2 linked regions of the Homo sapiens genome follow. The protein of the gene in region 2 purifies or fractionates together with the protein of the main gene of each other region. This does not show direct contact. Each region holds a gene or a part of one and is shown on either strand. Other genes may lie near its edges.

What was found.
Region 1: the proteins of DAO (region 2) and GSTM1 purify together in Homo sapiens (affinity purification with mass spectrometry; one large-scale study listed by BioGRID and IntAct). This does not show direct contact.

What each region holds. Positions count from the first base shown.
Region 1 is NC_000001.11:109,690,817-109,694,245, reverse strand, and holds the end of GSTM1 (glutathione S-transferase Mu 1), read right to left. Parts: intron 1,041-3,429; coding exon 951-1,040; 3' UTR 501-950; downstream 1-500. UniProt on the Homo sapiens protein: Conjugation of reduced glutathione to a wide number of exogenous and endogenous hydrophobic electrophiles. Involved in the formation of glutathione conjugates of both prostaglandin A2 (PGA2) and prostaglandin J2 (PGJ2).
Region 2 is NC_000012.12:108,886,592-108,890,091, reverse strand, and holds part of DAO (D-amino-acid oxidase), read right to left. Parts: intron 2,643-3,500; coding exon 2,528-2,642; intron 624-2,527; coding exon 547-623; intron 1-546. UniProt on the Homo sapiens protein: Catalyzes the oxidative deamination of D-amino acids with broad substrate specificity. Required to catabolize D-amino acids synthesized endogenously, of gastrointestinal bacterial origin or obtained from the diet, and to use these as nutrients.

The DNA.
Region 1 (3,429 bases), on a different chromosome or scaffold from region 2:
CAGGAAAGAGAGGAAGTAAACCCAGAGAGAACGTCCTGATGACAGCTGTGCAGCAAGCCTGGAGAGGGTACCTGGAAGCCATCTGAGAAAAACAATAGAGATTGGGTCCTGGAGACCTAACAGAAGTGATGTAGTCATATAGTGGAGAAGGTAAAAGGGACCCTGGTTCTCTCTGATGGAGATTCCACCCCCTTGGGGTCCTATTCAATGAGACACAAGCTCTGTGCAATTATGGAAAGTACTCAATACGGCTGGATGAATGAATGGGACATCCAGGCCAAGAAAGAGACATCCTTTCCACAGTGCCTCATGGGGCTTCCTGCTCTGAGTCTCTCAGGAATGGGAGCAAGAATTCTCAAGCGCCTTACTATGCCCAGCAGAATCCTTTAGAACCCAGCCACTGCCAGGATCACCAGCCAGTCCCTTGGAAGAGGCAGTGACAGACAGACAGACAGTCTGGGTAGATGGCCAGGAGCAAATAAGACAAGACACACAGCAAATGTGGTTGAGGCTTTACTTCCATCAGGTAGGCCTAAGGCAGGGACCATGCTGCAGGAGCAGGGCCTGTAAACCAGTCAATGCTGCTCCTTCATGCAACACGGGGACAGCTCGGGGCTGAGCTCCACAGGCGAGGGGCCAGGCAGGCCCTTTAAAGCAGACACAACCACTAACAGGAAGGAAGGTCAGGCTGGCTTTAGTGCAGGGAAGGGTAATGATGGGAGGGGATGTTCACGAAGGATAGTGGGTAGCTGAGGCTTCAAAGGGCCTGCATGGGACAGGGGTTTAGGGGGAGTGAAGAGGGACAATGAAGTCTTGGGAGTAAAGATGGGAATAAACAGGAGAAAGGAACGAGGAGGCAGGTGCTGGGATGCAGAGTCCAGCTGCGCTGCACAGCCTGGGCAGCAGGCTGAGTATGGGCTCCTCACTCCCACCTCCTGGCCTTCAAGGCCCTACTTGTTGCCCCAGACAGCCATCTTTGAGAACACAGGTCTTGGGAGGAAGCGGCTGGACTTCATGTAGGCAGAGATCTTCTCCAAGCCCTGAGAGGGGGGAAAATAAGGCCAGAACTCAAGGTCAGCTGCCCATGAGGGCTGGGACAACCCCACTGCAGACACAGCAGGTCAGGGCCCTGGCCACAGCCTTTCCATGTGGGCTCAAGTGCTGAGGCATCACACAGCTTCTTAGGGTCCCCAGATTTGCGGAGTTAACTCTTCCAACTTCCTTTAAGTAATGTTGTACCACAGTAACAGCTAACACTTATGAAGATTCTACACGGTGCTGGGTGCTCTGTACCCAAGAGAAATTACAACGTAAGCTTAGAAAACCCACTCGACTGCTCTGCAAGGCTGAATCTATTATCACCATTTCTCATGTGGGAAACAGAAGTTCAGCAACTTCCTTACATTTAAATACCTAGTAAGGGGAATAGAACTGCAGTGTAGCCTGGTTCTGTCTCTCTCCAGTTCTGGCCTCTTCCTGACAAATTCTCTTCTTCTTCTGCCCCACCACCCCTCACACCAGGCCCTGTCACTCCTTGACTGCACAAACAGTCTCCTTTTCCACAGGGAGGCTCTTGGCTTGTCTGGGTATAGAGACACAGAAGGGACCTCCAGCAGAACAAAGGGGCTCTGAACACACTCACCCAATGTCTCAGTAAAACCTGGATGAAAGTGGAATGGGGGGTGGCAGTGCACAAGAAAATCAAAGGCGAGACTAGGCTCTAAACATTCCCCTTAAAGCAGAAAGTCCAAAGTTCTCCATCTAATACCTGAGCAAAATCTCACTGTGCCCTAACCCATGGCATCTCCAGCCCTGCTGCAGATCAGGCTACATGATACTCAGATGTGCTGTGCACAATCTTACCAGGATTGAATGCCCAGATAAGGTATTCAAAAACATCCGGCTCACACCTGTAATCCCAGCACATTGGGAAGCCGAGGTGGGTGGATCACCCGAGGTCAGGAGTTCAAGACCACCCTGGCCAACATGGTGAAAGCCCATCTCTACTAAAAATAGAAAAATTAGCTGGGCGTGGTGATAGACACTTGTAATCCCAGCTACTCGGGAGGCTGAGGCAGAGAATTGTTTGAACCCGGGAGGCAGAGGTTGCAGTAAGCCGAGGTCACGCAACTGCACTCCAGCCTGGGCAACAGCAAGACACGATCTCAAAAAAAAAAAAAAAAAAAAGATCCAGGACTGCCTGTTCTCAAACTGATTGACCCTGGCATGTCATAGGCCATAGACCTCAGCTCTCCTCCACCCCTCCCTTCCCACCACCTCTTACATAACTCCAAGGCCACTAAGCCTGGACCAGAACCAGAGCTGATGGGAACTAGCTGAGCAAGCAGATTTCTTGATGGGAAAGGGAAACAGATTCTAGGCTCAGAAGCCCGTTGGACTAATGCCTCAAATTCCCAGATCTGTACTAAAGTAGGATTTGTGCTCTGAAACAAGATCAGCAAGGGTGAGGGATGGTTCCCCGTGAGTGAGGGGCAGGCCCCGGGCCTGGTACCCAGGTGGTGCCACACACACCTCACAGGCTGCTCTGCCTGCAGCCCTCTCACTGCACTCATTTCCAGGATGGGGCAGTCATCTATACATCTCCCACTGTGCCTCACTCCCTGCCTCATGCAGAGAAGGTCGGTGAATAGGAGTAAAATCAGCATGCTACTCATCTCACAGGGGGAACACGTGGAACACTGGAGGGAAAAAAGAGGAAGAGGAGTGGCTCATATCTGTAATCCCAGCACTGAGGGAGGCTGATGTGGGCAGATCACCTGAGGTCAGGAGTTCGAGACCAGCCTGACCAACATGGCAAAACCCCATCTCTACTAAAAATACAAAAATTAGCCAGACGTGGTGGTGCACACCTGTAATCCCAACTAATCGTGCAGCTGAGGCAGTAGAATCGCTTGAACCCAGGAGGCGGAGGTTGCAGTGAGCCAAGATCACTCCATTGAACTCCAGCCTGGGCAACAGAGCAAGACTCCAGCACAAAAAAAAAAAAAAAAAAAAAAAAAGAATAGAGGTGGAGTAAGGAAGTGCCCCAGCACCGGGCATTTCAACATATACTCCTTCAACAGGGACACCCACATATGTACCTTAATCCAGCTACAGCCACAGCCCTGGCTCTCAGGATTCCCCACACTGGGGTCCAATCATGCAAAGCTTCTGGAGGTAGCTATGAATATTGCCTGTGGGTTCAGTACTAGACATCAATGTCACCGTTGTGTCAGTCCTACTATTGCCAGCTCCATCTATGGTCATGAAGTTCTCTGCCTCTTCCAAAGTGTCCTGGGCTGTGAAACCCAGGCTAGGTGAAGCCTAAGGCTTTTTCTTCTGTCACAAATGGGAGAGCCCTGACTGCCACCCATAGATCCAGAGGCTCACAGGGAGCCCAGCACAGCCTCCACTAGCTCTGGGACCCTG
Region 2 (3,500 bases):
ACCACTACGTGAAGTTCAAGGGGGGACGTGGTTTTGAGCTCAATGCAAGGAAAATTTTTCTATCAGAAAAGGCCATATCTGACATTGGAAAATGCAAGTGGAGATTGAATGTGCATTCGTAGAGGGGATTCAGGTGTGGTGTGGGGTGGGGTGAGGAGAAGACCAGAGAGGCATCAGGCTGTAGAGAAAAGAAAGGAGGGGTGTGGGGTCATACAGACTGGTTGGAATCCCAGTTTGGCCACTTGGCTGTGTGACCTTAGGAAGTCACTTAGCCTCTCTGAAACTCAGTATCTTCATCTACAAAACAATATGGTGATATGGAGCTTCTGGGCTTGAGATCTGTGATTTCATACCCCCTACCTTCCCAGCCCAAGGCCAGGTTTGAGTGGGTAGCCTCTCTGAAGGAGCTGGACCAAGGACCAGGAGACCAGGGTACCAGGGCCTGGGTAGGACAGGAAATCTGGTGCCTCTACCCTCTGCTGCCTTCTGGACAGGTCTGCTAACTCGTCAGGCCCCAGTCCCCTTTGCCTGTGACAATAAACTCACCCGTAATCTGGGAACATATCCAGCTCTCTGGGGGTCAGCTTCCGAAATCCCAGAACTGTGTCCTTCCAGGAAGGGTCCTGAAGAGGAAGGACAAAGGGGGCACTGGGTGGGATGGAAGTCAATAATAATGATAATGGGCCAGGCGAGGTGGCTCACACCTGTAATCCCAGCACTTTGGGAAGCTGAGATGGGTGGATCACCTGAGGTCAGGAGCTCCAGACCAGTCTGGCCAACATGGTGAAACCCTGTTTATACTAAATAATAATACAAAAATTAGCAAGATATGGTGGTGCATGCCTGTAATCCTAGATACTCAGGAGATTGAGGCAGGAGAATTGCTTGAATCTGGGAGCTGGAGGTTGCAGTAAGCCGAAATTGTGCCGCTGCACTCCAGCCTGGGCCACAGAGCGAGACTTCATCTCAAAAAAAAAAAAAATGATAATGACAGAGACTTATGTAATGCTAAGTGCATATAAGGCACTGTTCCAAGCATTTTCTTATACTGGTCCATTTAATCTTCACAAGAAGCCATTGGGGTGGATGCTATTCTTTCCCCAGTTTACAGATGGACCAATTGAGGCTTAGAAAGATTAAATAACTTGTCTAAGATTACACAGCTAATAAATGGTGGTGTTGGGATTTTAACCCATACAGCTTAGTTCCAGAGTTCATGTTCTTAACCCCTATTTATGGTAAGGGTAAGAGTAAGACCGAGGGTGAGTTATAGGGGAAAAGTCAGAAATAGGGGAGAGAAAGCAGAAACAGTGAGAGTCCCCGGGGATGAGAGAAAGCAACAGAGCATAGTGTCAGACAACAGAGCATAGTGTCAGAGACCCCAGCCTCATCACTTGCTACTTGAATTCTCTGAGACTCAGTTTCCTTGTCTGTATCATGGAGTTAATAATCACTCTTGGCCGGGTGCAGTGGTTCACGCCTGTAATCCCAGCACTTTGGGAGGCCAAGGCAGGCAGATCACTTGAGGTCAGGAGTTCGAGACCAGCCCGGCCGTCATAGTGAAACCCCATCTCTTAAAAATACAAAAATTAGCCAGGCGTGGTAGTGCGCACCTGTAATCCCAATTACTCAGGAGGCTGAGACAGGAGAATGGCTTGAACCCAGGAAGCAGAGGTTGCAGTGAGCCGAGATCATGCCAATGCACTCCAGCCTGGGCAATACAGTGAGACCCTGTCTCAAAAAAAAAAAAATACTCTTGGTCCCATGAAAGGTAACAGATAATGTGGATAAAGCCCTTAGCACAGTGCCAAAGGTTGAATGAACCTTGAGAGCTGGCACGGGGCTCTGGGCACAGCGCCAGACCACCCTCTCCAAGGAGCCTGAGCAAACCGTCCCAGGGCTGTGCTGTTCCTGTTAGCACACTGGACACCATGGAGTCACAGATGGCCTGGGTTCAAATCCCAGCTCTGCCACTGGCGAGCTCTGTGGCCTTGGGCAAGTTACTCCATTTCTTGGAGCCTCCGTTTTCTCATTTATTAAGTGAGGATAAGGACAGCCCTTACCTCCCGGTTATAAAGAGAATTAAATTAGTCGCTAGCTGTAAATTAGTTAGGACTGGACCTGGCACATAATAAATGCTTTGGCAGTTTTTGCTTTGATGAGTATTTTATTCCTTCTTGATAAAAAGCCTTGGGACCTTCAGGGGCACTTGAAACCTTTTGGCTTCAGCACCAAGTGCCCGTCACTGCAGAACATGTTTGTATTTTAGCCATGCTAATCAAAGGCTAGTTTCCCCTGGGCATCAGAAGATTCTTTGTCCTCTGCCAATTTAACAGCAAAATGTAAAACAAAAATAATTTTCAAAGCAAAAATAGAATTTAAACCAAACCTGTTTTGAACCCAGGAGTCTGTTGCCTACGAGACTCAAAGCACCCCGCCCTCATCTGTGATTAAGGCTCTGCTGCACCCACCCTCACTACCCCAGCCCTGGGTGCTCATCCCTCATGGTCAAGAACTGTTCACCCACCGGAATGGCTTCATGGAAGAGGTTGTAGCCCGAGATTAGGAACAGGCCCAGGTTTTCAGCGTTGGGAGAATGGACATGGCTCAGGAGATAGTCAAAGGTCTGTTGGCTCCAGTCCCTGGAAGGGTCATGAAGAGTTCGATCACCCAATGCCCTGAGCTGGGCAAAAAACCTTAGGTCAGCTGGCATGGGGCTGTGGCATGATCAGGAGCTTGGGGTGTGTCCAAAACCCAGAAATCCACCACGTTCACTCCTGCAACTCCCCAAATGCCTTGGGTCTTCTCCCTCCTAAATTTTCCAATATTTCCCCATTAATAGAATAAAGAAGAGAGGGAATGAAGGATGCCCCATCATAACCATATGGAGTGCACCTCCAGCATGGGATTACATGGCTGATGAGTTTCAGTGAAGTCCTTGACCTGGCTTTGGGGATTATGAGCCACACTGTTCAGTCTGGCTGCAAGCACCCCTCCTTGTAAACACTGGTGGCAGACATCGACTTGCCGCTCCTACAACTTTTCCTCCTCCCCCTGGGCACACAGCTCACCTACATTTCCTAGACCCTCTCGCAGCTAAATGTGACTGTGTGACTTGTTTCTGGCCAAGGGACTCTAAAGACTCTGCACGTGTGGTCCTGCATGATCCTTCTGCAGTCACCAGCCCATGTGAATGGTGACATTGAGGTGACCTCAAAAGCACGTGGAAAAACGGCAGAGCCATTAGATGGAAGGAGCCTGGGCCCCGAATCACTGCCCACTGATCAGAATCATTGGTTTTTTACAGCTGTGTGAATTAAAATTCTGGCTGGTTGCAGTGGCTCATGCCTATAATCCCAGCTCTTCAGGAGGCTGAGGCAGGAGGGTCACTTGAGGTCAGGAGTTTGAGACAAGCCTGGGTAACATAGGAAGACCCTGGCTCTACAAAAAATAAAGAAAATTATCCAGGCATGATAGCATGCATGTGTGTCCTCGCTACT